6 separate regions of the Homo sapiens genome follow, and regions 2, 3, 4, 5 and 6 are each linked to region 1. Evidence: fine-mapped expression QTL. A gene starts in region 1. Each other region holds a variant in brackets. All regions are shown on one strand. Distances are from middle to middle. Region 1 holds the start of KCNAB2 (potassium voltage-gated channel subfamily A regulatory beta subunit 2). Region 2 has its middle 5.2 kb from the start of NPHP4. Region 3 has its middle 15 kb from the start of NPHP4. Region 4 has its middle 25 kb from the start of KCNAB2. Region 5 overlaps NPHP4 (nephrocystin 4). Region 6 overlaps CHD5 (chromodomain helicase DNA binding protein 5).

The links. PIP is the estimated chance that this variant, and not a neighbour inherited with it, causes the effect.
Region 2: its variant is fine-mapped to the expression of KCNAB2 in whole blood (TOPMed, PIP above 0.99).
Region 3: its variant is fine-mapped to the expression of KCNAB2 in whole blood (TOPMed, PIP above 0.99).
Region 4: its variant is fine-mapped to the expression of KCNAB2 in whole blood (TOPMed, PIP above 0.99).
Region 5: its variant is fine-mapped to the expression of KCNAB2 in whole blood (TOPMed, PIP above 0.99).
Region 6: its variant is fine-mapped to the expression of KCNAB2 in whole blood (INTERVAL, PIP above 0.99).

The regions. Positions count from the first base shown.
Region 1 is chr1:6,043,281-6,048,352 of GRCh38, forward strand. It overlaps KCNAB2 (potassium voltage-gated channel subfamily A regulatory beta subunit 2), which reads left to right and starts at 2,608. Exons shown (of 16, transcript NM_001199862.2): 1 at 2,608-2,903.
Region 2 is chr1:5,995,120-6,000,191 of GRCh38, forward strand. It overlaps a transcript of KCNAB2 not described here. Among named protein-coding and RNA genes, the nearest start is that of NPHP4, 5.2 kb to the left of the region's middle. RefSeq lists enhancers at 4,152-4,866, 4,867-5,072. The variant C/T (reference allele first, on the strand shown) is at 2,508.
Region 3 is chr1:6,004,466-6,009,537 of GRCh38, forward strand. It overlaps a transcript of KCNAB2 not described here. Among named protein-coding and RNA genes, the nearest start is that of NPHP4, 15 kb to the left of the region's middle. RefSeq lists an enhancer at 4,145-4,737. The variant G/C (reference allele first, on the strand shown) is at 2,712.
Region 4 is chr1:6,017,985-6,023,056 of GRCh38, forward strand. It overlaps a transcript of KCNAB2 not described here. Among named protein-coding and RNA genes, the nearest start is that of KCNAB2, 25 kb to the right of the region's middle. The variant T/G (reference allele first, on the strand shown) is at 2,241.
Region 5 is chr1:5,870,724-5,875,795 of GRCh38, forward strand. It overlaps NPHP4 (nephrocystin 4), which reads right to left. Exons shown (of 30, transcript NM_015102.5): 21 at 4,151-4,377; 22 at 3,748-3,934; 23 at 2,529-2,612. Among named protein-coding and RNA genes, the nearest start is that of MIR4689, 11 kb to the left of the region's middle. The variant A/T (reference allele first, on the strand shown) is at 2,002.
Region 6 is chr1:6,115,093-6,120,164 of GRCh38, forward strand. All of the region lies in intron 33 of CHD5 (chromodomain helicase DNA binding protein 5), which reads right to left. Among named protein-coding and RNA genes, the nearest start is that of CHD5, 63 kb to the right of the region's middle. The variant T/C (reference allele first, on the strand shown) is at 2,474.

The DNA.
Region 1 (5,072 bases):
TGCCCACAGGTACAGACCATCCAGCTCCAAGGGCCTGCCCCTAGGAGGGGCCAAGTAAATTATCCAGTGACCAAGTGAGAGCCTTCCAGCCCACTCAAGGCCCTCAAAACCCCACAGGCTCAACATGTTGTCCCCCCCGCCGGGATCCCTGTGCTTAAGAACCTTCATTTCCAGGTGGCCTTCCTGGCCCCAAGGGAAGCTCTGAAGCTTACCCTCTAGGCTCTCAGCCCCAATTCTGGTGCCCACAGGCTCTGGCCATCCTACCCGTTGGATCTCCAGGGGGTCACTTGGGTGTCTCTTGTGGGGGCTCTGGAGATGACCTCTAAGGGCTAGGGTCTTTGTTTGTTAACAGGCTGGGGGCCACTCCTAGTAGGGCACCCTCATCACACCAAGCATACCACTAAACATGGCTATTGGATGGTTCTTTCAGTTACTTAGGCCTGGCCCTCTCACAGGGCAGAGGCGTTCAAGGCATGTGCCCTGCCCCCATGCAGCTCCCAGGCAAGGAATTGGCATAGGACACTGTGCCAATCAGCTGTCCACCAAGTGCTGCATAACAAACAACTCCAAAACTCAGTGCCACGCAGCAATCAGCATCTCTTCCTTGCTCCCGTGTCTGCGGGTTGACCAGGCAGCTCGTCTAAGCTGGCTTGGCTGGGTTTGTCTCCAAGCTGCAAGTTGGATCCCCATGTCCTCCATCTTCCCATGCTTAACTGGGGCCTACCCCAGGCATGTCCTTCCCATGGCAAAAGTACCAGAGGAAAAGCAGAAACATGCAGGGTCTCTTACGGCCTATGGTTGGGGTCAGAGCGCTGTCACCTCTGCTCACGTGCTTTTGGCCAAAGTAAGTCTCAGGAACCAGCCCACAGTCAAGGGGCTGGAAATATATTGCCCCCACCAGTGGGAGGAGCTATAAAGTCACATGGCAAAGGGCATGGGTACAGAGAGGGGTGAAGGATTGGGAGCAATACTTCCATGTACCCCAGGTCTCAAATAGCCCTGATGATCTCCAGAAGGCAGAGCACGTCACAGGAGAAGCCCAAAGAGCATTTGGGGTCCAAGGAAGGAGGGGCCACAGCCAGCTGAGAGCCAAGAAGACTTCACGGAGAAGGCAGCAGGGGCTTGGATCTGGTCCTTGAAGGCTGGGCAGGATTCAACGCAGAGGCTGGGAAGCATATTCCAGTAGATACAACAGCCTGAGCCACAGCTCAGAGGTGTGCACAGAGAACAGGAAGTGACAGTTACCCAGCCTGGGCCATCAGGGACATGATGGAGAATAAAGAGAGGCTGGCTGTAGAGGTGGATGTTGGTGGGGGGCCTCGAATGCCTAGCGATGGGGCACAGATGCACTCAGAGGGCACTGGGGAGCCATCTATGGTGTTTGAGCAGGGCAGGGGTCAGAGATCTGCTCTAGGAAGGAAGCCTGGTAGCAGGGAGTAAGACAGGGAAGAGAGAGGCTAATGCAAGGAGACCAGACAGTGCCCAGGAAAGGTGCAGGACGGCTGAGCTCCAGGAACTGCACAGAGAGAGAATGAAGGGGTGCAGGGCCTGAAAAAAGGACGTCAGAAGCCACGTCCACAGGGCTTGGCCACTGATGGGCAGGTGCTGAGACAGAAAGGGACAGAGAGGAGCAGTGGACCCAGGGAAGGAGAGGGCCTCATTCGGAGCATGTTAGGCTGCAGCTACCACCCAGTAGTGAGGCGCAGGCCCCCCGACCAGGGCGACATGTGGGGATCTGACAGAGTGGGCTTGGGCCTTTGGGGACAAACCATTTCAATTGCCAAGGCCTTCGCAGCTAGTCACCCGCAGCCAGGCACCTCCAGACTCTACGTGCTCTCCCAGCCTCCCACTTCATTTACCTTCCACACTGCGACTGGGGCACTGATTTCCTGTCCCCCACCTTCCCCCATGGCAGCTACCACTGTTTGCTCATTCATCATGGGGGGACGGTTCTGCCTCCATTCAAAATCCCACATTCACTGGCGCGCTTTCTCAGCCGGAAGATGATGTCACGCTGGGACTTTGCTGGCATCCTGTGACACGCAGTGACCCTGGGGGTCATGACCCTGGGGTTGGGGCTCAGCACTTAGCCTCATCCCAGAGCTCAGCCTTGTTTGGCCTAGTCTCAAAGCATTTCCCAAACCCCAGGTCAGGACATGTGCCGTGGAGAAGGGCTCCTGTGTCCCTGCCTGGAGTGAGTGGCAGTGTGGAGTCCAAATAGCAGGTTCTGGGGCCTTCCTGCCATTTATAGCTACCGGTAGTATCAGATATACCCATCTCGGGTGTATCCCCAGAGGACAGGAGGAGCATGCGCGTGTGCTGAGCAGAGGCCTCTCCAGACCCCCTTGGCTGTGGGTGGTGGCCCCATACGACGGGGCCCCCAGCTCCCCTGCTGCAGACACAGTTCAGAGTTGAGTGGTATGCGGAAGCCACAGGCTCTGTGTCCCGCACTCAGATACCAAAGAGCAAGGCCTGCCCCTTTCGACCTGTGGGTCCAAAGGTTTGTGTTTCTGGCACGCGGGGATGGTGGAGGCAGCAAGGGTAGGCCTGAGGGACGGGCAGGACCTCCCCCTCACCTTGGGCTGCACCCCAACCCCACGCACCGGGAGTCAGCCTTGCCAGGTTGCAGCACGGAACTGCACTTCCCGAGCTTTTAGGGGAAGAGGCACTCGTGAATAATTCAGCCTCTTTCACTGAGATGAAAACGCCCTAATAGAACTAATGGACTCGCTGCCTCAAAACTCGACTCTGGTGGGACTCATCTCATTCACCAATTGCTTCTGACGTCCTGCAGTGACACTCCCTAATGAAAAAGCCGCTGTGCCAGATCCTTAGAGTGTCTGGTGATCCCTAATAAACCAGACTGTGGCCTTTTTAACGAGCAGACGCCCCCACGAAGGCAGGTGAGTCCTCCCTTCAGCCGCTACCTTCCTAGTGGAGATGCCGCTTGGGGGCACGCATCCGCGGGAATGAAAAATAACAGAGGAGACCATATTTTGGGGTGGTTTTGTCTGATCCGGAATTAGACCCTCCGTGTTTTTGCAAAGCAGAAGACCTTAAAAAAGAGCCAGCCTGAGGTAAACTTGGAATGACCGTGATGGATGGGGTGGTGGGCGGCAGGTTTCAGCCGGGCAGCACCTCTCGCTTGAGTCTGCTCACAGCCCAGACCTGCCCAAGGCTGACTGTTTTCCCATCTGCCGGAGACACGGGCGTCTAGCTCGTACCTCGCTGTGTTCACCATTGATTAAGATTCAGCATTTTCCAGTTTTGCCCAGAGCGCTGTCAGGGAGGTTTGGTCTTGTCTGAAATGTCTGTGCAGGAAGCACGTGCTGAGGGAGCCAGGGGCTGCTTGTTTGGGCCTCAGTTTGCTGATTGTCCTTGAGCGAAAATCATTCTGTGTTTGCACTGAAGCAATGCCGTGTCTTGTAGAGCCGCACCCCGGAATGGTAGCAGCTCCCCTTCCATTTCCGCTTTGGAGAACTCTGGCTGGGCTCTCTGCTCTCTGGACAGGTGTCACCATTCAGAAGAGATGCTCAGGGTTCCTTCTCAATCTCAGGTTGTATGCTTTGTTGGCTTTCAGTAAACAGAACAATTCAGAAATTCCAGGTAGAGGAGTCTGGGGTGAGGTAGTGATTCCTACTGACTTAATGAGGTTAACATCTTCCTTGCATTTTTCCATGTCACGGTGTTAATTCACGTGAATTCCCCTGGGCCCCTGATCTACAGGAATAGATTTGCACCAGGCAGGCCCAGCCCAGGAAAGAACTTGTGGGTTCCACGTAATTAGCAATGGCTATTGAGGAGGGGCTCGTTTTTCTTGGTACCAGGGTGGTGAGGGAGTGTCAGGGCTCAGAGACCCTCACTCTGGAAAGCGGCCGGGATTTGGGATATTTTGAATTGGAAGTCAGGGGTCACTGTGCTCTTGAGCACAGGAGAAGTGGGGACCCTGAGGCAGGAGCCCGGCAGTGGGGCCACTCTCTCCTCCCTGCAGTGTCTTACCGGGGGGCCCTTCGTCCAAGGACCTGACGCTGCTAGAGTCTCGGCAAAAGCCCAGAATAGAGCCCCAGTGTGAGGGAGTCCAGAGGTGTCCTCTGTCCCCAGGCACCGCTGGTAACGGGCAGAGCCTCTTTGCCTTCTGCCTGTACCTATCCTTCTTCCCCTGGGGCAGCCCTCCCAGAGTCATGAGCCTTCAGGACCACAGGGAGCCCCCGCTGTACAGAGTCCTGGCATGGGAGTCCCCCCCACACAAGAGAGGGTGACCTGCAAAGAGCTGCTGGGTCTGAGGTAGGAAGCCAGCCCCGCCCCCACCAACAGCTGCCTGGCACTGCCAGGAAATGCCCAGGTATAGCCCTGGTTGGCCTTTTGGAGCCTGGGCCTTGGTTACTGTTCTACAAATATCTGAGCCCCTCCTCTGTGCACGGGACACTCCCGTGGGCACTGGTCAGGGGGCAGTGGCAGCAGGCAGAAGAGTCCTTGCCCTCCTGGACCCAACCTTCAGGGGAGTCCAGCGGCCATGGGCTCCTCATGGCACCAGCCCTGCTCCTCACCCCACCACCCCATGCCAAAGGCTGCCATTTCTGTGCCCGCAAGTTCCCTGGCCCAAGCCCTGCCCTGGCACCATGGGGACAAGCTCGTAGCAAGAGGCTCTGGGCTCCCTCCGTGCCGCAGGGCTCCCACCTGCAGGTCTGCTCCCAGGGCTGCAACATGAGCTCTAAGGAAAGATTGCAAGCGGGCCCCCACAGGGAGGGACGCCCTCTAAATCCTGGCCACAAAACCCATTCTGTCCTGCCCTCTCTCCCCTCTCCCACTCACATCCCCAAACTCAGCCTTCCACCATCTTGTTGTGAAGGGGGCGATTATTCACATCTGTGTTCTCTTCCCTTAAGCATTTTCTAGGGAGATTTGGTGTCTGTGTGGCTCACTCCTCTCACTCAAACCTGTGGTCACAAGTTCCTTCCCGCCCTGCCTGCTGGCCCCTGGTGGTGGATTTTTCTTTCCACAGCATTTATCATAATTGGTGTCTTATCCCACGCCCCCCAACAGACTGTCTTCTGGCTGCGTCACCAACTCCC
Region 2 (5,072 bases), 48 kb before region 1:
TGGCGTCCCTGAATAAGGAGGCAGGACAGTGGGCAGCTCGGGGCGGCAATTCGAGAAGGATTGATGCCAGAGGTGTCTAGGGCCATAGACCCCATGTTCCCGCCAGTCCCCCTCCCACCACCAGGAGGACTTGGGTCTTGGCACCCAGCAGCCGGTCATCCTTGCTCTCAGAGGACTAAACGGAAGGACAGGCTTCTCCAGGGTCAACAGAGGCAGTGACGGAGCTGGGTTGGACCCCCTACTTCCTACTTATTTGAGCCCAGTTCATGCCTTGGCTGTCCGAGCTGGGGGAAGCCAGCACCCCGAGGACATGACCGGCTGTCCCTTCAGAAGGCCACTTGGAGGCATTGCTGACATTCATGGGCGCAGCCAGTGCCCTTGGGTGTGTCCAGGTCACTGGAGGGGCTTTTGGGACTGGGAGGTGCCACTACCATGGAGATTTCTCAGCGACTCAGTCCTGCCTGGCATGCAGGCCCTGGTGCAAGGGTACTGTTGTTCGTGGCCTTCAAAGAGATGGCCCCATAGTTAGAGAAGAGTGAGGGCACCAGGTCCGTGGTGGGATGAAGGAAAGGAGGGACCCTCCCCACACTGGAACTACACTCATGACCTCAGTTCGCCTCCGGCACTTGTAAACAACCCTGTGAGGGAGGCTGGATAGGGAAACTGAGGCACAGAGCAGCAGTGAAACTGATCCTGGCCTCCCAGCTAGTGAGGAAACCTTGATTCTGTTCCTGCCCTGCCAGAACTCTGTGAGAGGTGCCCCCTCCGCCATCACCTGAGCTCCATCGAATGCCTGAAATCCTCACCTCTGCAGGAGTGAGTCTCCCAAGAGGCCCTGGAGGCCCAGGCCCAGACCCTGGGGGATATGGAAGCACTCCTTTGTCGTGGCGTGGGAAGCCCCACACTGCTCTTTCCTTGGTGACGGGTGACCCGCCATGTTCAGGCCCCTCCTGGTCTATCTTCGGGTGAGTCTATTAAGGGATACACCATCTCCGCTCAGCCAGTCCCGAGGAGGCAAAGGGAACAGGACCCTCTTCCCCAGGAGAGAGCACACTGGGGGAGATGGGGTGGCACACCTGGGCTTCGTCCTGTCACTGCCCACTGGCTCGAGGCTTTCCTGCCTGCCTGGGCTTGGCAGATGCGTGAGACTCCCTGTCTCATGGGCCTGAGCAGATGCTGGGCCCTCTTGTCCTCTGCCACATCCTGGGGAACTCAGATGAAGGCCAGCCTCCCTCTTCCTGCACACCCACCATGGGATGAGCCCTGGGCTCAGGCCCCTCCCTGCCTGAGGGTGCCCTGCCACTGCCACACCCAGGTTTCCACTCAGACCCCTGCTGGCCAGCGTCTCAGGAGGCTACTCCCTGCTCTGCGCAGTGACCACATGGTTAGCCCCAGAGACCCAGGTTCTGCGTGTCTTCAGTGACAGAGCAACCCCATGCCCACCCTGCCGGCTTCCCCGGCACCTGTCTCCTTGCAGGCAGCCTCCTCCACTTCTCCAGCACACAGGTACCCACAGAGCTAACTGCTTTGACGCCATGCTGGTTGTAGACAAAACAGGATTGGGAAAAGGGGAAAAGTGGAGAAATGGTGGGGACCACCTTCCTGGCCGTCCGCCTTTACCTGGACCCAGTGAGAAGGCTTTCCTGGCTGTGATCTTGAGCCCTGACTGCCGAGCAGCCGAGATCTATCATCCAACTCCATGGCTGGGAGCTGGGCACAGGTTTCTTCTCAGACCCCGCACCAGATTCAACCCATTCCACGTGGGCCAGTTTTCTGGAGCAACTTCCTGGGTCCTGTAGACCCCTGAGGTCTGGTCCGCAGGGGTCCTGAGTCACCAGCCTGGGCTGTTTCCCTGCCAGAGACTTAGCTCTCTGAGTCTCTGGCTCTCTGGCCTGCTAAGCCACACGGATCATTCGTGTCTCCCTCTATCTGAATGGGTGAACTGGTGCCTCAATGGTAGGAGCCTGGGGCTTCCCTGGCACACAGTGGGTGCTGGATAACTGTCAGTTCCCCCTCTTCCAGTCGGACGAGGCGCCCCAGCCACCATCCTGCCTGGAGCTCAGGTGGTTCCTGGGCAGCCCAACGGAGCCCCCAGGAAAACCGGAGCAGAGGAACCTGGCTTTCCTTCTGCGTGGTTTCCTGGGACCTCTTGGCAGTCTCTCAGCTGGAGAGCCCTGCTGAGTGATTTCACAGTGGAGAAGGATGGAGGGAAGGAAGGGGAAGAGAGGGCAGGAGGGGAGAGCCCGTTGCCCTGGTCTGCAGGGAATAGCCTCCCTCTGAGGGAGGGACACTCCTTGCCCTATTCTCCCTGACCTTGGGCCTCGTGGAGGGCCTGCAAGCCTGCCAGACCCCCACTGCACACCTGCCCACCTGTCTGTCTGATTCCAGCAGCCCCTGGGCACCGAGTGGGTTGCAGAGCCATGCTCTGAGCATGCTCCCCCTCCTTCACCATGAATGTGTTTTCATTTTCCACCCCCGGGCAGCTTCATGATCTTTCATTGCAATCT[C/T]AGGCCCTGGTATCCACAGGCTCTCAATGCAGCCTAGGACAGAAGACTCTAGAATTCTGCCTCGGAGCCCTGTGATCCCAAACACTCAGCCGTGGCAGGGGCTCTCTGAAAGTGATATTCTTGCCACCCCTCCCAGATGCAGGAGGGTAAGGAATAACTAGAATGCATGGGCAAGGAGATTCAGCTCGATCTATTCATTATAAAACAAATTTAAATTTAAAACATTGCTTAAAACCTATACATGCCAGTGAAGGGCGAAGGTCTTAGCAGCAGACATTTGAAGGACCAAGAATGAGCAAGACCCACCTCCCTCCTCTAGGGCTGAGACCCAGGAAAGGGATGCAGTGACCACATGCCTGGAATGGTCAGAGAAAACCCTGCTGATAGGGAAGGAGAGACGGGGGCAGTGGGGACATTTGACCTGGACCTTGAAAGACAGGCAGGTTGTGATAGGCAGAGCTAGGAAAGGATGGTCTGGAAAAGGGCTCTGCATGGGCAAGGTCACAGAGGGAGGACCAGGCAGGCTGGATGATGGCCAGAGGCCCAGTGCGGTCACAGGCTAGGGCATGAATATGGGTGAATAGGATAACTAGGGGAGGGCATCAGGGCCAAGGCCACCATGGGCTGGACAGTGATGGGGAGGGAGGGAAGAGGAGAGCCCTGGAGCCCCCCAAGCTTTTCTGGCTGGGTCCACCTGGGCTGCACAGACTGAAAGAGGCAGAGCCAGAATCGGGGCCTCTGGATGGGGAGGACTGGGCTCGGTTGACCTTGGGTTTCGAGGTCTGTGTCTTGGACAGCAGTGCCCACTGACATTGAGAAGGTAGGGCTGGGGTTCACAGGAGAGGTGGGACCTGGAGGTGACTGCCACCTACCTACTGGTCACAGCCCTGACAGTGTCACCTGGGGGTAGTGCCAAGGGTCGCCAAGGGTACGGGTTTGAGAGGGAAGATGAAGGTCAAGACAGACAGTAGGGAACCCTGGATTCTTCCAGAGCCCGGGGAGGAGAGGAAAATAGAGGATGAGGCAGGTATCTGCTGCATCCGGTGGGCCAGCTGCTGCCAAGGAGGCAGCCTCTGTTGAGAGGGGAAGCAGAGCTGGGCTCCCAGGAGCAGCGAGGGGGCGCAGGACCCCAGATTCAGCACCACCAGCTTCCAAGCACTCGCCAACCAACTTATACCCATCTGACTGAGGCAGAAACACTGAAAGTCAAAGTGGCTTCCCTAAGGCCTCCAAGCTACTAGGCGCAGGAGCCAGGACCCCAAGCCAGAGTCCCACCCTGGTGACCTTTGGACTTTGCCGCCAATGGCTCTGGAGAGATTTGACCGTGAAAGGAGGAAAAGGAAGGTGAGGGCACAGGGTGGCTCCGGGGCTGGCGGGCGTAGACGAAGCCGCTTTGCTGCTTAACCGCAACTGCCAGCAGCACCCTCTTTCGTCCGCCCCTTTAGAGACGATTTCAACGGCGCATTCTTCCATTTCCTGCCTTAATGGGGGGCATTTCTGGGGACACCCGTGAACTGCGGGCTGGGGCTTAGCCTTGTTGGTTGCCCTGCATAGGTTGGCTGCGTAGTGCTTTACGTTCTGTGTAAGAATTGTGGAGTCTTGGGGCCTGGGTGGGCCGAGGGTCCTGAGATATCGGTGTGCCCAGCAGGCTTGTAGGGTGTGGCACCTGCCCAGCCCTCAGGGGTCCTGGTGCAGCTTAGCAAGCTCCTTGGCCACCAGTCCCTGGTGACTCAGATCAGGGGTTCCAAGAACATGCTTTGAGAAACACTCCCTAGCCCTAGCCGTTTCAGTCTGTCAGTGAACCTGCCCACCTCTACTTCTTAAGGAAGCACACGAGGAAGCTGTTTGTGATGGTTGAAAGCTCCGGCGAGAAGGGCTTTGCGGGGGTTTCTGTAATTCTTGGGAACATGTGAAGCCCACATTCTACTGGAATGACCTGCTGCACTTTTGTGAGCTTCAAATCTGAGATGTGCTTTCATCCTCCCGTGTGTGGCAGGGCGCCTTGTTAGTGTCCAGGCCTCTTGGAATGTGGTTTGGTTCAGGGGTACTGATGGCCCGAGTGCTTGCCCACGGCAGAGGAGGCCAGGGGTCAGTACAGGAGCCAGTCCTCGCCACCCTGTTCCTGACCATACAGAGTCTGTCACCTGCCTGTGCCCTGATTGTACCCCATCTGCACCGTGTCTGCACCCTGCCTGCGCCCTGTCTGTACCCCATGTGCGCCCCATCCGTACCCTGCCTGCGCCATCTGCGCCCTCTCCGCACCCTGTCTGTGTCGTCTGTGCCCTGTCTGTGCCCCGTCCGCATCCCGCCTGCGCCCTGTCTGTGCCCCGTCCGCACCCTGCCTGCACCCCATCCATATCCTGCTCTGCTGTCTGCACCCTCTCTGCACCCTGTCTGCGCCGTCCGTGCCCCGTCTGCACCTTGTCTGTGCCCCGTCCACACCCTGCCTGCACTCTGTCTGTGCCCCATCTGGGCCCTCTGCACGCCCTACCTGTGCCCTGTCTGTCTAGATAGATCCTGCAGCGCCTCCCGCCTCTGCTCAGCCAGCCCCCCGCACCCCCTAGA
Region 3 (5,072 bases), 39 kb before region 1:
AGGCAAGGTGTGGGCAGGGTTGGTTCCCTCTGGAGACCGAGGTAGCATGTGTTCCAGGCCTCGCTCCTGGTTCCTGGTGGCTGCCCGTAGTGTTCCTTGGCTTGTAGAAACACCCCCCCGAGATTCTGCCCCCATCGCCACATGGCCTTTTCTGTGTCTGTCTCCTCTTTTTATATGGACACTTGTCATTGGATTTAGGGCCCATCCTAATCCAGGATGGCCTCATCGCAGGATTTCCACCTTAATTACATCTGCAAAAACCCTTTTGCCAAATAATTCCACATCGACAGGTAACTGGGATTATGACTTGGGTGGATCTTTCAGGGAACACAGTCCACCCCACACAATAGGTTTCTACCCCCGAGTCCCACCTCCAGCCCCGTCTCCCTCCAGAGTCTGGCTGCTTCTTCCTCATCAGACAGTTCCTTCCCTCTGTAGGGATTGCATACAAGTGTTGCTGGCTGAGGGGTGAGGGTGGAGTGGGGGGATGTGGGAGCTGAGCTGAGGGATGAGGGTGCAGGCAGAGATCTGGGAGCTGAGCTAAGGGGTGAGGGTGGAGTAGGGGGACGCGGGGGCTGAGCTGAGGGGTGAGGGTAGAGTGGGGGACATGGAAGCTGAGCTGAGGGGTGAGGGTAGAGTGGGGGGATGTGGGAGCTGAGCTGAGGGGTGAGGGTGCAGTGGGGGGACGTGGGAGCTGAGCTGAGGGGTGAGGGTAGAGTGGGGGGATGTGGGAGCTGAGCTGAGGGGTGAGGGTGGAGTAGGGGGACGTGTGAGCTGAGCTGAGGGGTGGGGGTGGAGTTGGGGGATGTGGGATCTGAGCTGAGGGGTGAGGGTAGAGTGGGGGACATGGAAGCTGAGCTGAGGGGTGAGGGTAGAGTGGGGGGATGTGGGAGCTGAGCTGAGGAGTGAGGGTGAACTGGGGGATGTGGGAGCTGAGCTGAGGGGTGGGGGTGGAGTTGTGGGTTGTGTGAGCTGAGCTGAGGGGTGAGGGTGGAGGCGGGGACGTGGCAGCCCAGCTGAGGGCCTTGGAGCACACCTGGTAGGAAGCCAGCCTGTGGACCTGGAGCCGACTGAGGGTCCCCCCTACCCCCCATGAGTAGGAGTGGGATCCAACCTGGGTCCCCTCTCTCCCCTCCTGCTGGTGTATTTGTAGTTGGAAGGCAGCACACCCTCCTGGCTCAGAGAGATGGGTTTAGTGGCCCGGGGAGGCACGGAAGCCCAGGTCTGTCTTTTCCCAGCGGTCACTGTGAGGATGCAGGGCCCCCACGTGGGGAGACAGGGCACAGCCTCCCATTGGGGCAGATGGGGGTCTCCCTGCCCAGGATGCCGGCCGGAGTTTCCCCTGGCAGGGACCACGGGTGCTGTGACTGGAGGGAGGTCCCAGGGCTGGCACCCTGGGGCTCTGTTCTGATGTTCTGATCCATTCCACCCTCACCCCTCAGCTCAGCTCCCACATCCCCCCACTCCACCCTCACCCCTCAGCTCAGCTCCTACATTTCCCACTCCACCCTCACCCCTCAGCTCAGCTCCTACATTTCCCACTCCACCCTCACCCCTCAGCTCAGCTCCCACATCCCCCCACTCCACCCTCACCCCTCAGCTCAGCTCCTACATTTCCCACTCCACCCTCACCCCTCAGCTCAGCTCCCACGTCCCCCCACTCCACCCTCACCCCTCAGCTCAGCTCCCACATCCCCCCACTCCACCCTCACCCCTCAGCTCAGCTCCTACATTTCCCACTCCACCCTCACCCCTCAGCTCAGCTCCTACATTTCCCACTCCACCCTCACCCCTCAGCTCAGCTCCCACATCCCCCCACTCCACCCTCACCCCTCAGCTCAGCTCCTACATTTCCCACTCCACCCTCACCCCTCAGCTCAGCTCCCACGTCCCCCCACTCCACCCCCACCCCTCAGCTCAGCTCCCACATCCCCCCACTCCACCCTCACCCCTCAATTCAGCTCCTACATTTCCCACTCCACCCTCACCCCTCAGCTCAGCTCCCACGTCCCCCCACTGCACCCTCACCCCTCAGCCCCACTCCACTCCCACCCCTCAGCTCAGCTCCCACATCACCCACTCCTCCCCTACCCCTCAGCTCAGCTCCCACATCCCCCCACTTCACCCTCACCCCTCAGCTCAGCTCCCACATCCCCCCACTCCACCCTCACCCCTCAGCTCAGGTCCCACATCCCCCACTTCACCCTCCACCCCTCAGCTCAGCTCCCACATCCCCCACTTCACCCTCACTCCTCAGCTCAGCTCCCACATTCCCCTACTCCACCCTCACCCCTCAGTGCTCTGTCAGAAGCGCTACCTGACCACATCCCTCCTCTGGGCTCTGAGTTCCCCTGTGCAAGTGGAACCAATCTTTCCCCTCAACTTCTTCCAAGGGCCGTGATTGAAACCCACCTAAAATACAATGATAAGAGCTGTTGTCGAGGGATCAGACAGCAGCCTGTGTAAGATGAGCACTGGGTTCTGGGGAAGGACGGTAAACAGTTCGCCTTATTCTGTGCTGGGCACTGTGCTTAAGCCCAGCAGCGGGCCCTGGCTGGACTCAGTGTCCAGAGTGTCTCTGCTCAGGGCTGGCCGAGAGTCAGCGCTTTCTGTCCCTGTGGCGGACAGTCCGACCTCTCCGAGGCTGCCATAGAGACTCATATCAGCCAGGCGAGCTGGGAGCGCCACCACTCCCCAGATAGTTACTGCCC[G/C]GGCCTCCCTGCCCAGTCACTGCATGGGGGGGGCTCAGCTCCTGGGTGTGAGTTTGTGCCAGGCTCCAGAGAGGTGGGGACCCCAGCCACACCCAGGGACAGGGCCAAGTGGCCAAGAGACCACTTAAATGCCAGCGTGGCCACCCCATGTAAAGCAATGATCTCTCTGAAATTGCTCATCTGGTATACACCAGGACACTGGCCTCTTCTTCCTTCTCCCATCCTGGGATTTAAGAAGTTAAAACCCACCCCCTCTGCCCAGGAAGCCGAGGCAGCAGCTTGGAGCCAGAGCCGGAGGCAGAGCGGCTCCATCCGTGGGGAGCCGCGCCACCTCTGCGCCTCCTCCGCGCCTCCTCTGCGCCCCGCGCCGTGCTGAGTCAGGCTCTGAAACGCAGTCATCATCCGGAAGTGGTTCTTGCTGTGGCCCCATCCCCCTGTGTGATTTTCCTACCTTGGCTCACTTAAAATTTCAATCTGGCTCTGAGAGGAGACTCAGCATTTCCTTTATCTCCTTTTACTGTGGATGCTTGGAAAGGAGTGGGAGAAGCTGGGCGCCGCAGTGTGTGCGCGTCACTGTTGCCCTTACCCCCGAAGGAGGGGATGGCCAAGAGAACCTGGAACCTCCCCTCCCGTCCCTGTGCCCGCCGCTTCCCTTGGCCCTCACTGATGAGCCCAACAGATGCAGAGGCTCCTTCTCTCCCTGGCACTGCAGCCAGGTAGAGGCAGCTGCAGCCGCAGCCCTGAGAGGGGCTGGAGACGCTGAGGCAGGGGCAGTGGTGGGGTCTGGCTCCCCTCAGTTCAAAGTGGCCTGCAGATGCTGCCTGGAGCTGTCTGGTTTGACATGGCTCCCTCTGAGGGAGCTGATGAGTGAGGGCCAGGAGCACTACTTCATCAGGCATCCCCTCACCTGCACCAATGGGGAGGCGAACCTGGAGCTGGGCCATTAAGACCCACAGATTGTTTTCTCCATGTTGCGAAGGGCAGGGCTTGGATTTCACGAGGCAGATGGTGAGCCAAGTCCGGTTCCGCTGCGCTGGGTCCCCCATGGCAGAAAGGACCCGCCCCCCCATCACCCTGACAGTGGCTTGCATGCCCAAGAGCAGCCAGCATCCAGGACAGGCTTCCCTCGTTCCTCTGTTCATCCTCTTTAAGAATCACTCAGAGCCAGGCACGGTGGTTCACGCCTGTAATCCCAGCACTTTGGTAGGCCAAGGTGGGCGGATCACCTGAGGTCAGGAGTTCGAGACCAGCCTGGCCAACACGGTGAAACCCCGTCTCTACTAAAAATACAAAAATTACCCAGGCATGATGGCGTGCACCTGTAATCCCAGCTACTCGGGAGGCTGAAGCAAGAGAATTGCTTGAACCCGGGTGGCGTGGTGGAAGTTGCAATGAACCAAGATTGCACCGCTGCACTCCAGCCTGGAGACGGAGCGAGACTGTCTCAAAAAAAAAAAAAAAGGATCACTCAGGACACCAACATGGGCTGAGAAATGCTCCTGGTATCAACAGAACTGCAGCAGATGATGAAAACAAGGCTGTGATCAGGGAAGTGGCTGAGGGAGTGAGGCCCCCGAACCACCACCCCAGAGCTCTGTCCCAGGCCCCTGGGGTCTCATGCTGTGACCTCCTGCGCCACATGGGGAGAGGTCACCTGGGGGACTTGTTTCCGTGGGAACCTCAGGCCTTGGGCCTGAGTGAGGAGATGTCTGAAGCCTCTGGCCTGGGCGGAGAGTGAGACCCCAGAGCAGCCCTGCCCATTCCTCTGGGAGCAGCCTCAGTGAAAGCTGTAAAGCAGGGAAATTGGACACGTCCAGGCCAGAAAGAGCAAAGCAAAAGTGCCCCTGGGTGCACTGCACCCCACAGTCCAACCCTTCTCCCCCAGGAGCTGCAGGCCACGCTCTGAGCCTCTGTTTGAAGTGGTCCCTGACTGGACATTCTCATCTCGGGACATGAGCTAGGGTCACCCAGCACCACTATGCAGCTCTCCAAGTCCCCCTGGCCACCCCGCCCTCTGTAGGGGTGCTGGGCCTTGCTCTGCACCTATCCCTTGGAGTATCTGCTTTCCAGAGCGGCAGGAGGCCCGCCTGGTATGCCCATGGGGGCATCCACCTGTGCAGAGTGTGGCCTCTCCCCAGCAGATCGCTGGGTACATGAGCAGGCAGCAGACCATAAGCAGGCTGGCTAACGGGTGGAGGGGGCCCGGTGGTGTCCGTGTGCGTGTATGTGTGCACACGTGTGCATATGTGTATGCACACACCTGCACACACACCTTCAGATGCACGTCCCCTGTCTAGACCCCATCAAAGCCTCTTGCCAGGACTGGCCTGGAACACACTGTCCAGCCTGATTCTGTTCTCT
Region 4 (5,072 bases), 25 kb before region 1:
CGACTGCAGCCTTGACCTGCCAGGCTCAAGCAGTCTTCCCACCTGAGCCTTGCAAGTAGTTGGTACTACAGGCACACACCTGTAATCCCATAGCTGTAAACCACACCCAACTAATTTTTTTTGTAATTTTGTAGAAAAGGTGTCTCACTGTGTTGCCCAGGCTGGTTTTGAACTCAGCTCAAGCAATCCTCCCACCACAGCCTCCCAATCCCAAAGTGCTGGGATTACAAGCATGAGCCACTGCGCCCAGCCAGGCAAATGTTTTCATAGAGGACCAGATAGTCGATGTTTTCAGCTTGCAGGAAATTCAGTCTCTATTGCAACTACTCAGGTCTGCCATAGTAGCGTGAAAGCAGCCCCGGGCAATATGTAAATAGGTGCTGTGTACTGAATGTTTCTGTCCCCCAAGATTGATAGCCCTAATCCTCAATGTGATGGTATTAAGAGGTGGGGCTCTGGGGGTGATAAGGTTTAGATAAGCTCAGGTCTTGCTCTGTTGCCCAGGCTGGAGTGCAGTGGAGTGATCATGGCTCACTGCAGCCTGGGCCTCCTGGGATCGCTCAAGCGATCCTCCAACCTCAGCATCCCAAGTAGCTGGGACCACAGGTATGCACCACGACGCCCAGCTAATTTTTTTTATTTTGGGATAGAGGCCTCACGACAGGACTAGTGCCTTGGTAAGAAGAGGAAAAGGCCAGAGCTCCCTCCCTACCCTGTGTGGACCCAGCAGGAAGGAATTCTGTCTGCAAGAGAGAGCCCTCACCTGGAACCAAATCAGCCAGGACCCTGATGTTGGATTTACCAGCCTCCAGCACCGTGAGACAGAAACGTCTGCTGTTTCAGCCACCCAGGTTGTGGTATTTCATTATGGCATTCCCAAGCTCACTAAGATAACAAGATAGCTTGGCTACCTGGCAATAAAACTTTATTTATGGATGCTGAGATTGGGAACTTTATATAAATTTTGTGTGTTATGAAATGTTATTCTTCTTTTGGTTTTCTTTCGTTTAAAACTGTAAAAATTGGACTGGGCACAGTGGTTCACACCTGTAAGCCCAGCACTATGGGAGGCTGAGGCAAGAGGACAGTGTAAGGCCAAGAGTCTGAGACCAGCCTGGGCAACATAACAAGATTCTGTCTCTATAAAAAATTATAAAATTAGCCGGGGGTGGTGGCACACACATGTAGTTCCAGCTACTTGGGAGGCTGAGGCAGACGGATCACTTGAGCCCAGGAGTTCAAGGCTGCAGTGAGCTGTGATCATGCCACTGTACTCCAGCCTGGGCAACAGAGTAAGTTCCCTTCTCCTAAAAAAAATTAAATGAAATAAATAAAACTGTAAAAACTGTTCTTAGCTCGAGGGCTGCACAAACACAGGTGACAGGCTGGCGCAGCAGTTTTCCAACCCCTGTCCTACAGCAAGGAGGGAAGCCGTCACACTGCACTCTCTGCTGGCCAGCCGGTGTGCAGTGTTGCTCAGGTTCTGGGTGCCTCTGTCATTTAGGAAGGAATCAGCACCATTAAAAGAGAGTGGCAGGGTGCTGATGTTCCAGAGAGAAACTGTGCCGAATGATGGCTAATTAAGGCTCTGGAGTTGGGCACTGGAGCACCGGACTCCCTGCTCTCCAAAGCCCAGCTTGCCAGCCTCGACCTGAGCGTCTTCACTGATACAGCACCAACCCGAGGCTGGCCTGTAAGGTTTGGCGAGGGTCCAGTGTCACAGCCCACGTGCAGCACGTGCTGCACAGTGTCGGCCAAAATTATATTCATGGCTTAAGTCAGAAACCTTGTGTGGAAGGAGGGAAAGAAGCAAGGTTTGCTCTCAAGAACAAAGGGCCCGGTTGTAGATGGGGTGAGCTATGGCAGGTGTCCTCAGATGCTCCAGGGATTGTCCTAGACAGAGGGACTCACTTCGTTGTCAATCTCCGGAGGGCGGAGCAGGCCCAGCAGGTGAAAGTTATGAGGAAGCTGGTTTCCAATCAGCATGCAAAGGACCATGTTGTCATTTCAGTTGTCCCCAGTGGGATGATCTGCCTAGAGTTTCCCACAGGTGGAGGTCTTGCGGAGGGGGGTCATGCATCCCCCGGAGCCCTGTACCTGGGGTCCCGTCTCTGCATGCTCGGAGGCTTCACGACATGTAAACCTAGTTATCTTGGTAACACTTGGGGGATGTGCCCCCTCCCCACAGTCCTGGCCCAGAGGAATGAAGTTACATCAAAGCAAATTGATTCGGTCGTTGA[T/G]CCTTATGTTGTAGAAATAGCTAGAAGCTATAAGGAGAACCACTGTGAGGTCCCCATTAAAGGAGAAGAATTTTGGTGGTCCCCAGACAGGGCTGGCTCGGGATCTCGTTCTGTGGTCAGGACCACCTGCTGCAGTACAGCCTCCCACCTCAGCCTCTCAGACTGCCACCTTCTGCCCCCAATCCAGCCTGAGATGCCCCCAGCACCACCCCTGCTGAAAACAGAAGCAGAACCTGATACTCAGCCTCTTCCATGACAAGAACACACCAGGATCGCGTCCCTTTCCAAGCAGAATTTTCCCGAAGCCCCACCCTCCTGGACTCGGGTTATGGACCGCCACAGGCCACCCCAGCTGGAAGAAAATTCAGGAAATATAGGGGTCATGGGTGACAGGTGGGCCAGCCAGCAACCGTATCTACCACATTTTTAAAATTTCTATTTTTATTATTTATTTATTTTTGAGACGGAGTCTCGCTCTGTCACCCAGGCTGGAGTGCAATAGTGCGATCTCGGCTCGCTGCAACCTCTGCCTCCTGGATTCAAGTGATTCTCTTGCTTCAGCCTCCTGAGTAGCTGGGATTACAAGTGCCCACCACCATGCCTGGCTAATTTTTGTGTAGAGATGGGGTTTCACCATGTTGGCCAGGCTGGTCTCGAACTCCTGACCTCAGGTGATCTGCCCGCCTCGGCCTCCCAAAGTGTTGGGATTACAGGCATGTAATCCCACCTGTAAACCTGTAAGGCCACCACACCCAGCCTAAAATTTTTATTTTCATATATATTTTTTGAGACAAAGTTTTGTTCTGTCACCCAGCTGAAGTACAGTGGCACAATCACAGCTCACTGCAGCCTCGACCTTCCAGGCTCAAGCCATCCTCCTGCCTCAGCCTCCCAAGTAGCCTGGACTGCAGGTGCACATCACCATGCCCAGCTAATTTTTTTATTTTATTTTTTGTAGAGACAGGGTTTCTCCATGTTGCCCAGGCTGGTCTTAAGTTCCTGGGCTCAAGCGATCCACCCACCACGGGCTCCCAAAGTGCTGAGATTACAGAGATTTCAGGCACGAGCCACCATGTGCCATGTTTATTGAGCCAGCTTAAATATTTGGCTTAAACACATACACCCAAATGTGGAGCTGCTGTTGACTCCATGATGCAGAAGTTTCTTTTTCTTTTTCTTTTTTCCCAGTTTTTTCTATTGTGGTAAAGGTACATATAAAATGTGCCATCTTAACCACTTTTAAGTGTACAGTTTAGTGGTATTAAGTATAAAATTCAATAGTATTAAGTGTATAGTTCAGTGGTATTAAGTGTACAGTTCAGTGGTATTGAGTATACAGTTCAGTGGTATTGAGGGTAAAGTGCAGTGGTATTGAGGGTATGGTTCAGTGGTATTGAGTATACAGTTCAGTGGTATTGAGTATACAGTTCAGTGGTATTGAGGGTAAAGTGCAGTGGTATTGAGGGTATGGTTCAGTGGTACTGAGTGTGTAGTTCAGTGGTATGAGTGTGTAGTTCGGTGGTATTGAGTGTACAGTTCAATGGTATTGAGTGTACAGTTCAGTGGTATTGAGTGTACAGTTCAGTGGTATTGAGGGTAAAGTGCAGTGGTATTGAGGGTAAAGTGCAGTGGTATTGAGGGTATGGTTCAGTGGTATTGAGTGTACAGTTCAGTGGTATTGAGGGTAAAGTGCAGTGGTATTGAGGGTAAAGTGCAGTAGCATTGAGGGTATGGTTCAGTGGTACTGAGTGTGTAGTTCAGTGGTACGAGTGTATAGTTCGGTGGTATTGAGTGTACAGTTCAGTGGTATTGAGGGCACAGTTCAGTGGTATTGAGTGTGTCATTCAGTGGCATTGAGTGTACAGTTCAGTGGTATTAGGTGTATAGTTCAGTGGTATCGAGTGTGTAGTTCAGTGGTATTGAGTGTACAGTTCAGTGGTATTGAGTGTCTAGTTCAGTGGTATTGAGTGCGTAAATTCAGTGGTATTGAGTGTACAGTTCAGTGGTATCCAGTGGGTAGTTCAGTGGTATTGAGTGTATAGTTCAGTGGTATTGAGTGTACAGTTCAGTGGTACTGAGTGTATGGCTCAGTGGTATTGAGTGTACAGTTCATTGGTATTGAGTGTACAGTTCGGTGGTATTAAGGATACAGCTAGTTGGTATTGAGGGTACAGCTCAGTGGTATTGAGTGTATAATTCAGTGGTATCGAGTGTGTAATTCAGTGGCATTGAGTGTACAGTTCAGTGGTATTGAGTGTGTAGTTCAGTGGTATTGAGTGTACAGTTCAGTGGTATTGAGTGTACAGTTCAGCGGTATTAAGTACATTCATAATATATGCACTACCATCACCACCATCCATCTCCAGAACCTTTTTATTCTCCCAAACTGAAATTCTGTCCCCATTAAACTGGAACTTCCCATTCCCCCTCCCCTGCCCCTGAGGGCCACCATTCTGCTTTCTGTCTCTAGGCACGTGACTACTCTAGGGACCTCAGATCATTGGAATTGTACAGTATTTGTCATTTTGTGACTGGCTTATTTCACCTAGCAGAATGTTCTCGAGACTCATCCGTGTTGTACCATATGTCAGCATTTCCTTCCTTTGTATGACTGAGGGATGTTCCCTTGCATGTGTGTGCCACATTTTGCTTATCTTTTTTTTTTTTTTTTTTTTTTTGAGACAGGGTCTCGCTGTCACCCAGGCTGGAGGGCAGTGGCGCGATCTTGGCTCACTGCAACCCCTGCCTCCTGGGTTCAAGTGATTCTCATGCCTCAGCCTCCTGAGCAGCTGGGATTACAGGTGCCTGCCATGACACCCAGCTAATTTTGTA
Region 5 (5,072 bases), 170 kb before region 1:
ATGATGTTCGTAGAGGACACGGCAAATGTCTGTGGAGGTCCTGCCCCAAGTGCATAACCTGGGTCTAACTGAAACGAACACCAGACCAGCCCCACTGGGCACGCCCTGCAGGATAACCGCCTGTGCACTTCACAACAGCTGCAGCCACGCCAGAAGGACTCCATGGGCAGCAGGCTGGTGGGGGCCACTGGACGGGCCATCTATCAAGTGCTGGGACATTTGTGAATGTGAATGGGGCCTGTGATGACAGAAGAGGAGCGTCAGTTCCCTAATTTTCATGGCTCTCCTTTGACCACAGAGGACAGTGGCCTTATTTTCAAGATAACCCAGCTCGAAGTGTCATGGAGTAAAGGGCATTACCTGATAATTTATTCTCAAATTGTTCAAGAAAAATGCACAAACAGAGAGTGGCGAGGCAAACATGGCAAAGGTTAGTGACCGGGAAGTCTGGGAAAACCCTATGTGGGGACTCTGCACTCTTCCTGTAACTCTTCCCTAAGTTCTAAATTATTTCAAAATAACTACTTGTTATTTAAAAAAGGCACAGGAGTTAACTTGAAAAGGATGGCGGTGGCCTGAGAGAGGGCAGTTCCAGCGTCTAAGAGCGGTGCCTCCATGGGATGAGAAATACAAATATAACGCCTCGGTGTCCATCATGAGACGCCGCAAACATGGACTGTCTCTGGAGGCTGCTAGGACGCAGCTCATTTATTTGAAAATTGATAAAGGGAATGATTCTAACATTCATCCTCACTTTCAAGTACAAAGTATATTTTAGGGTAACCAAACTGCTGATCGGGAAAGTCCTTGTTTGTAGAAAGATCACAGGAAGAATGACAGGACTGCAATTTCACCATTTTCCACCCTGGATGGAACACGCAGTGGGCCAGGAGCCTCAGCTGGATGCGAGTGAGGGAGACACGGGTGATGGCATCAGGCCATCAGCACCTGAGCACGGTGACAGCCAGCATGGCCTCTGTGGGTGGCCTTCATGGACAACGTGGTCTGCCCACTGAGCAACTCCAGAGGCGGAGCACCCCAGGACAGCGGGTCCTGATCCAAACGCACCAGTGGTAGAAAGGCCCGTGGTTACAGCCCCAGCAGACGATGCCGAGGTCTGCGTTGACTGGGGGCAGCAACAACAGCATGCAGTCATGATAAAAAGAAAAGTCCTTATCAGTCAGAGATACACACTGCAGTAATTATGGGTAAACTAACACAGTGTCTAGGATTTCCCTTCAAACTCCAAATTCATGTGAAGAGATCATATTTCTGACGTAAAGATTATTTTAAGGTGAAAAGAAATCTTACCTGAACTTTCCTTATCTGACTAGTGCACAGCCACCTGAAAGTGCAGCTGCCATTAAACCCCTATGTGAAAGTGTAAGTGAAAGCATCCTGCAAATTCCAGGAAGGTCACAGACTGGCCATGCTCACAGCATAAAGAGACAACAGAATGTCCCCGTCTTCCCACGGAGGCCCTGGCCCTCGCCCCCTTTGTGCTACATTGGCACAGAAACCTCGACCTCTGGGCATTTGGCAAGCTACTCACTTCCCAATGCTGCCACGGGCTCACAACGGTAAGGCCCGTCTTTGCTGCTGTCCCTCTGTCTACGGTCATCCACCTGCAGCCCTTACCATTCAGACCTGAGCTAGCAGAGGAAAACCTTCCTCCCAACGGTTTTGGCAACAGGACGCGATGGCTGGGACTTCCCACTCATGTAAGGAAAAAGCGTTAACCTAGAGCACTCAATAAAGATCAGATACATTCCTTAGATCAAGGCAAAGCTGTGGCTGCACACTTAAATAAAATAAAGCAAGTTTTCACTGGTGATGGGGCCCGGTGGACACAGAGGGCCAGGCTGCAACCACAGTGAGACCCGGGCCACGGGAACGCCACAGCCTCACAGGACTGCGCTGAACTCTGAATTCTGTCCTCCAGGCAATGTGTAAGAAAGACCAAAGCTTTTTAATTTTGTTTTTCACTTCCCAACTACTACA[A/T]AAGGCATGTTTCTACCGAATAAAAAACAACCTTCAGAAACTGCCATAAAGCAGCAGTGTCTCAAGCTCCTCCTGAGAATGTCTCAGCCAGCTGTTGAGAAGCAGGTGCCTTACTATACGGCCTTCGCTTAGCAAGGGACGTAACCAAGGACTACGTCTTATTTCCAGGAAGAACCACACCACACACTCACACACCAGGGAATGCTCTGCGTGAGGCTCAAGGAGTGGCCGCAGGCTGTGGCAGCCACCACGGGAACTGCGGCTTCACACCCGGAGAGCCCTGGGCTGTGAGAAGGCGGCCACCAAGGAGGCATTTCCGACCAGATACCATGCAGGCTGTGCCAGCGCCCAGACGGAGCTGCCCTGCCCAGCGAGGACACGGAAAAGGCCATTCCCAGGCCCACGCCACCCCTGCCCTGACCTGGCCCCAGCCCTCCCCTCCAGGAGGGGAGAGAAGGACACAAGGGTCAGGCCCTGGGAATACCCAGGAAGCCCCGAGATCAGTTTGTCCTCCGTTGCCCCTTTACCTTGGCGTGTTTAGTGGGCACTGCGCTGGACTTCCAAGGTGACACGGCGTCCATGCCCTTCTCGTTGCTCAACCCAGGAGAGGCCTGCAGGAACCGAACAGCACAAGCAGGTCAGGAAGCAACACCATTAGGCGACCAGCACCTGTGCTTAGAGACACCACTGCCACCCAGCTGGGAGCCACCAGCCTCCTCTCACACTGACTCTCCAGGCAGCAACCATCACCAACCGGCCTCACTGTGCCAGAGAAGGCTGAGGCTGCCAGGAACAAAGGGAACAGCAGATCCCAGGTGGAAACCCGGCTCTGCCTGAAGCCAAAGGCCTGAGGTCCCACCTGCAGTCCTCACAGCCCATCCCAAGAGCCAGCATGGCATCCTGTGAGTGAGCCTCTAGGGACATCTCAAGTCCACCTTAAGCGATGACCACCACCCTAGAGAGCTGACCCCAAAAGGTCAAAAGCTGAAACACACACTCCACACCCCATGCCGGCCTCACGCACCCGGGCATGACACACCCCCTGCAGGCACACCTCACACACCACCCCCTGCACACAAGTGCACACCTGCACACACACCTCACATACTCCCTGCACACACACAACTGCATGTCTGCACACACCTCACACACTCCCTGCACATCTCACAGACCCCTACACGCACAACTCCTGCACGCGTGCCTCACACACACCCTGCATACATGCCTCCTGCACACACACCTCACATATCGCCCCTGCACACACACCTCACATACATCCTGCACACATACCTCTTGCACATATACCTGCTGCACGCACGCTCCCTGCACACATGCTCCCTGCACGCATGCTCCCCGCACACATGCCTGCAAAGCTGCATCTTGCATAGAGCAGACAGTGCTGCAGTCGGAAGGGACCAAACAACATTAACTGGAAAGAAGATGCTAGAAAACGTCAATCCATTAGATTCACTGGGCTTTAAGAAGCCCTTCCAACCAACTTAGTAAAGAAAATTAGGAGGAGATGGTCCAGCTCGACACCCATCAGGCTGGAAAAGAGAAGGGGCTGGTTGCCACTTGCAGTGTACATGCCAGGGCTCTTGTTGAGCACCAAGGGGAGTGGGCGGCAGCCCCAAGGCTAGTCTGTCTGCACAGGTAAGGGAGGGACACTGGTGGAGACTGGAAGCATTCTCAATTTCCCACCGTCATCAGCCAAATGCAACTTCCCTGTGTGCCTGACACCCGCACCTGCACCATGGCCAGCTGCCCTGCAGAGAAGCTCTGGAACTTGAAGGGGACGTGGGCGGTCTCGTGGGGGCGCAGGTAGAGCTGGGGGGCCAGGCTGCCACGCAGGTGGAACATGTCCTCCTCCACCGGTGTGTGCAGGCCAGCAGCACCCTTGAAGTCCCTCCACTCCTGACTGTCCACGATGACGCTGGGGGAGGCAGTGTCCAGGCGTCAGGGCAGTTCTTCCCAGGAGGACCCACAGGAGGCTGCGGTCCCACCCACCGAGAGCGGTGCTCAGAGGAGTGGGAGAGAGAAGTCAAATCGCCCCGGCTCTCGGGCAGAATTCGAGCCAGCTCAGCAGGGGTGCCGGCTGCACCCGACACAGATCTGGGCTGGGGCAGGACGGGCACCACTGAGACCTCACCTGAGCTCGGGGTTGTCGATCTCCACAGTCACCGTGTGCTGTGTGTTGTGGGGGTTCTTAAGCACAAACTCAAAGAACTCGGCGACCCCCAGCGTGGCGTGGAGCGTGTGCTCCGTGGTGATGGCCAGGCTCAGCAGGCTGGCGATGCTCTCGGCCTTCGTGCGTTCCCGGTAGGCGGCGATGACCTGTAGGTCCCGCAAGTGCTGTGTGCGGACGCTCTGCTGCGCCTGCAGACAAGAGGACATGGGTGGACAGGGTCCCAGGCACACTCTCCTCCACAAGGGGCTATTGCTGGCTGCCCACCACCCGCGATCTCAGAAGAGGACATTTCTCCACAAGCATCGCCACCACCACCCCCTTCCTTGACCATGTGGTCTGGGTGGAACTGGCCGGCCCCGCCCAGGCATGGATCTCAGGCAGTGCTGGACAGAGATCTGCTGGCTGTGTCCCTGACACGGAGGTCCACACAGCATCCCTGCCTATTCCTGAGAGACTCTTCACAGACACGAGTCTGGCCCCCCGCACGGTGGAGAATCAGAAGTTTCAAACAAGAGAAAAGAATGGCCTCAAAACTATGGTGACAGGCCTCACCAGCCAGGTCCCCAACACAACTTTGGGAGCCCTGCCTGGGCCCAGCGTCCACAGGAGAGGACATGCCCCCGGCCTGCTGAGTCTCGGTCACACCGGGTCAGAGTCCAGGCAAGCAGCACGCTGCCTCAGCAAGGCTCAGCCACCCCCTTGCTCTGATGCCGCAGGGACTCAAGGGGCTTGGCCAGCACACATGGGTTCTACAGGTTGGAGACTGGCCTGTTTTTCCTGTGGGACTTACAAGAAAAAGTAAGGCCCACTAGAGGCTGCCTTGCAAGATCTCAGGCCTGGAAGGGGCCACCCCCATGCCGGGGAGTCAGCCAGCCTGCAGCTA
Region 6 (5,072 bases), 72 kb after region 1:
ACGAGATCAGGAGATCGAGACCATCCTGGCTAACACAGTGAAACCCTGTCTCTACTAAAAATACAAAAAATTAGCCAGACTTCGTTAGCCGGGCGTGGTGGCGGGTGCCTGTAGTCCCAGCTACTTGGGAGGCTGAGGTGGGAGAGAGACTCTGTCTCAAAAAAAAAAAAAAGAAAGGAAACACACAATCATTAACATTTTAATTGCAGAATTTAATTGCAGAATTCCAACATGGGCTCCAAGACTTCCGGCCCTTGGTGTCCACGCCCTGCAAGATCCCCTGGAAGGTGAAGAGGACAAACTCGACTCCCCAGAGCAGGTTCCGTTTTGCGGCACGGGTGACCTTAAAACAGGGAGATGACCTGAGTAGGCCTAACCTGACCACACGAGCCCTTTTCTCTGGCTGGTCACAGAAAAGGAAGTCAAGGATGCGAAGCACGGGAGGGTTTCTGTTCACCACTGCTGGCTTGAAGACACACGAGGCTACATGGCAGGAATGTGGTGGCTTCCAGGTGCTGAAAACGGACCCAGCTGACAGCCAGCAAGGAAATGGGACCTCAGTCCTCCAGCCTCAAGGAACTGAATTCTGCCAACAACAAGGAGTGAGCATGGATGTGGACTTTTCCCCAGGGCCTCCAGATGAGAACTCAACCCACTCGATACTTTGATGTCCTGAACCTTGTGATATCCTGAGCAGAACACCCAGCTACACCACGCCAGGCATCAGACCCACACAACTGTGAGCTCATGGTGAGTGCTGTTTTAAGCCACTAAGTTTGCAGTAATTTGTGACACAGCCATGCAAAATAATACAACTGGGAAGGTTTTAAAAAACAGCTGTGCAAAGAAAATATACATGGAAGCTGGATCTGAAGATTACTCAAAAAGCCTGGCAGAGAAATAGATAACAAAAAAGAAGCAAAAGATATGAAAACTTATCAGCCCCCATCTTTTGCTAACCTTGTACTCTGCTTTCTTCTTTAGAGCATTTGGAGTCTGTGGTTGAACAACACGTATTTCTGTTTATTGTGGATTGCCTGTGTTCCCCAGTGGAATACAAACTCCACGGAATGAAGCTTTCAGCTGTTTTGGTTCATTGCTTGTGTCCTCAGTGCCTGGGACAGCATCTGACACTCAGCAGGCTCAAAATATATATATATATGCATGTGTGTATATATATGTTTGTTGGATGAATGAACCAATCAATGAGTAATAGGAATTCCAGAAGGACAAAATAAACATAATGAGGGCAAAGAAAATATTCAAAGAGAGAATGACTGAGAATTTTCCCACAATTGATGCAGGACATAAATATTCAGCTTTAAGAATCACAGTGAGTCACACACAAGATAAACAAAAACTTCACTCTAAAAACAAAACAAAAAATACCCTCCATTGTAGTGAAGCTACATATCACCAAAGACAAAGAGAATGTCTTCAAAGCAGTCTTTCAATGTGAGAAAAGATAGAAATGACAAACTTCCTAGACAGGAGCAGCAATTACACCAACAGCAGCCTTCTCAGCTTCTCAGCAGCCTTCTCAGCATAATGAATGCCAAATAAAAAAAGGAAGAATATCTGCAAAGTGCTGAGGGAAGATCCCTATCCCATCTTCAATTGTACTAACTATTCAAGAGTAAAAGAAAAATAACAATGAGAGAATTTACCATTCCCAAAAAAATTGCTGAAAGCACCATTAAAGGTGTACTTTAGGAAGGACTTTGAATGAAGCAATGATGAACAAATAGGCAAACACAAACTGGTAAGAATGTGAGAAGATCTAAAAAAGGATTAAAAATTTAGAAATAAGCATAACAACAAATTTGGGAAAGTAAAAACAAACTGAAACTAAAATACTGGGCAACAGCATCGTGGCAGATGAAAGGGAAGTGAGTTAGAGCTAAAGCTATCTAAAGTCCTCATATTACTCAGGGGTATACATGTTAAAAATGTTAAGAGTACAGAATGAAATTGACTATAAACCTTCCAAATGAGTTGAGGGGGAAAAGAGGAGATATAAAGAAAATTTGATCAATCCAAGAGATGGCAGGAAAAGAGAAAAAAGGAGAAAAGAGAAGGGTAATATATAAAGTACAAAATAAGATAACAGAATTCCATCCACATATCTAGTTATTACAACAAATGTAAAGAGATTAAACTTGCCAGCTAAAAGATAGGGACCCTATAATTAGATTTTAAATGATGAATCCCCTATACACCGTCTACAAAAGATAGACCTAAAACATTACAAAGAGATTAAAAGTGAAGAAATGAAAGAAAATATTTGTAAATCATATATCTGATGAGGAACATGCATCTATATAAAGAACTCATACAAGCCAGGCACAGTGGTACACGCCTGTGATCCTAGCTACTCAAAAGTCTAATACTAGAGAATTACTTGGGCCCAGGACTTCAAAGCCCTCCTGGACAACATAGTAAGGCCCTGTCTCTAAAAGTATTGATTAATTAA[T/C]TTAAAAAGAACTCTTACAATTCAATAATTTAAAAAAATCCAATTTTAAAGTAGACAAAGGATCTGAAAGGACATTTCTTCAACAAATTATACACAAATAAGCCATAATCACATGAAAAAATATTCAACATCTTTATGCACAAAGTAAACTCAAATCAAAATGACAATGAGATACCACTTCTCACCCACTAGGGTGACTATAATCAAAAAGACAGATAATAACAGGTATTGGCAAGTATGTGAAGAAACTGGAACCCTCACACATGCTGGTAAGAATGTGAACTGATGCAATACACATGGAAAACAATTCAGCAGTTTCTCAAAATGGTACAGAGAATTACCATATGATCCAGCAGTTCTACTCCTAGATATATACCCAAAAGAACTGAAAACCTAGACTCACACAAAAAAATGTGTACACAAATGTGTACAGTAGCCAAAAAGTGGAAACAACTCAAATGTGTATCACTATGAATGGATAAACAAAACAAAACATAGTAGATCCATACAATGGAATATTATTTGGGCATAAAAAGAAATGAAGTACTGCCTGTAATCCCAGCACTTTGGGAGGTCAAGGTGGGAGGATTGCTTGAGTCCAGGGGTTCAAGACCAGCCTGGGCAACATGGCAAAACCCCGTCTCTACAAAGAATACAAAAATTAGCCGGGCGTGTTAGCATGTGCACCTGTAGTCCCAGCTACTTGGGAGGCTGAGGTGGAAAGATCGCTTGCACCCAGGGGGTCAAGGCTGTAGTTAAGCCAAGATCATGCCACTGCACTCCAGCCTGGGTGATAGAGCAAGACCCTGTCTCAAAAAAAAAAAAAAAAAAAAAGGAATGAAGTACTAATATATTCCACAACATAGATGAACTTTAAAAACACTATGCTAAGTGAAAGAAGACACACAAAGGGCCAAAGTACTGCATTATTCCATTGGTATGAAATGTTCAGAATAGGCCAGTCCATAGGACAGAAGTGATTGCCAGGGGCTGGGAGGAAGAGGAAGAAATGGGGAGTGATTACCAATGGGTAAGAAGAATTTATTTTTGAAGTGATTAAATGTTCTGGAATTAGATAATGGTGATGGTTGCACAACTCTGGATGTACTAAAAATAACAAATGGTATACTTCATTACTTTTTTTTTTTTGAGACAGAATTTCGATCTTGTTGCCCAGGCTGGAGTGCAGTGGTGCCATCTCGGCTCACTGCGACCTCTGCCTCCTAGGTTCAAGTGATTCTCCTGCCTCAGCCTCCTGAGTAGCTGGGATTACAGGTGCCCACCACCACGCCCAGCTGATTTTTGTATTTTTAGTAGAGACAGGGTTTCACCATGTCGGCCAGGCTGGTCTCAAACTCCTGACCTCAGGTGATCCACCCACCTCAGCCTCCCAGAGTTCTGGGATTACAGGTGTGAGCTACCATGCCCGACCTGAATGGTATACTTTAAATGGCTCAACTGTATGATATGTTAACTATATCACCATAAAGCTGTTATCTTAAAAAAAAAAAAAGGAATAGAAAAAGGCGTAACAAATATATACTAAACAAAAGAAAGAGCAACCCAAATCAGCAAAAATAAACTTTTTTTTTCTTTTTTGAGACGGAATCTCGCTCTGTCACCCAGGCTGGAGTGCAGTGGTGCGACCTCAGCCTCCCAAGTAGCTGGGACTACTGGCGCTCGCCACCATGCCCGGCTAACTTTTTTGTATTTTTAGTAGAGACGGGTTTCACCATGTTCGACAGGATAGTCTTGAACTCCTGACCTTGTGATCTGCCCACCTCGGCCTCCCAAAGTGCTGGGATTACTGGCATGAGCCACCGCACCTGGCCCAAAAATAAACTTTTAAGCAAAAACTTTAAAGAGGGATAAGAGGGTTATTACACAATAATTAGAAGCACACTTCACAAGAAAAATATTAAAAACCTGAACAAATATGCACCTGACAACCCAGTCTCAAATGATATGAAGCAAAATCTGGCATTATAAGAAAGAGATTAATCCATAATCATAATGAGAGATTTTAACACAAGTCTCTCAGAAACTGACTGATCAAAGCAAACCAAATACTAGTAAAGATATTAAAAACTTGAACAATATAATTAGCATGCATTATCTACTGACCTAATGCGCATATATATATACGTGTGTGTATATATACGTACATATATAGGTACATATGTACGTACATACGTGCGTACATACGTACATATGTGCGTATATACGTACGTATGTACGTACATATATACGTATATATATACGTGTATATGTATATATGTGTGTATTATATATATATATATTTTTTTTTTTTCTGAGATTGAGTCCCTCTCTGTTGCCCAGGCTGGAGTGCAGTGACACGATCTCCACTCACTGCAACCTCTGCCTCCCAGGTTCAAGCAATTCTCCTGCCTCAGTCTCCTGAGTAGCTGGGACTACAGGTGCATGCCACCACACCCAACTAATTTTTGTATTTTTAATAGAGACTGGGTTTCGCCATGTTGGCCAGGCTGGCCTTGAACTCCTGACCTCAGGTAATTCACCTGCCTCAGCCTCCCAAAGTGCTGGGATTACAGGTGTGAGCCACCATGCCCAGCCCTAA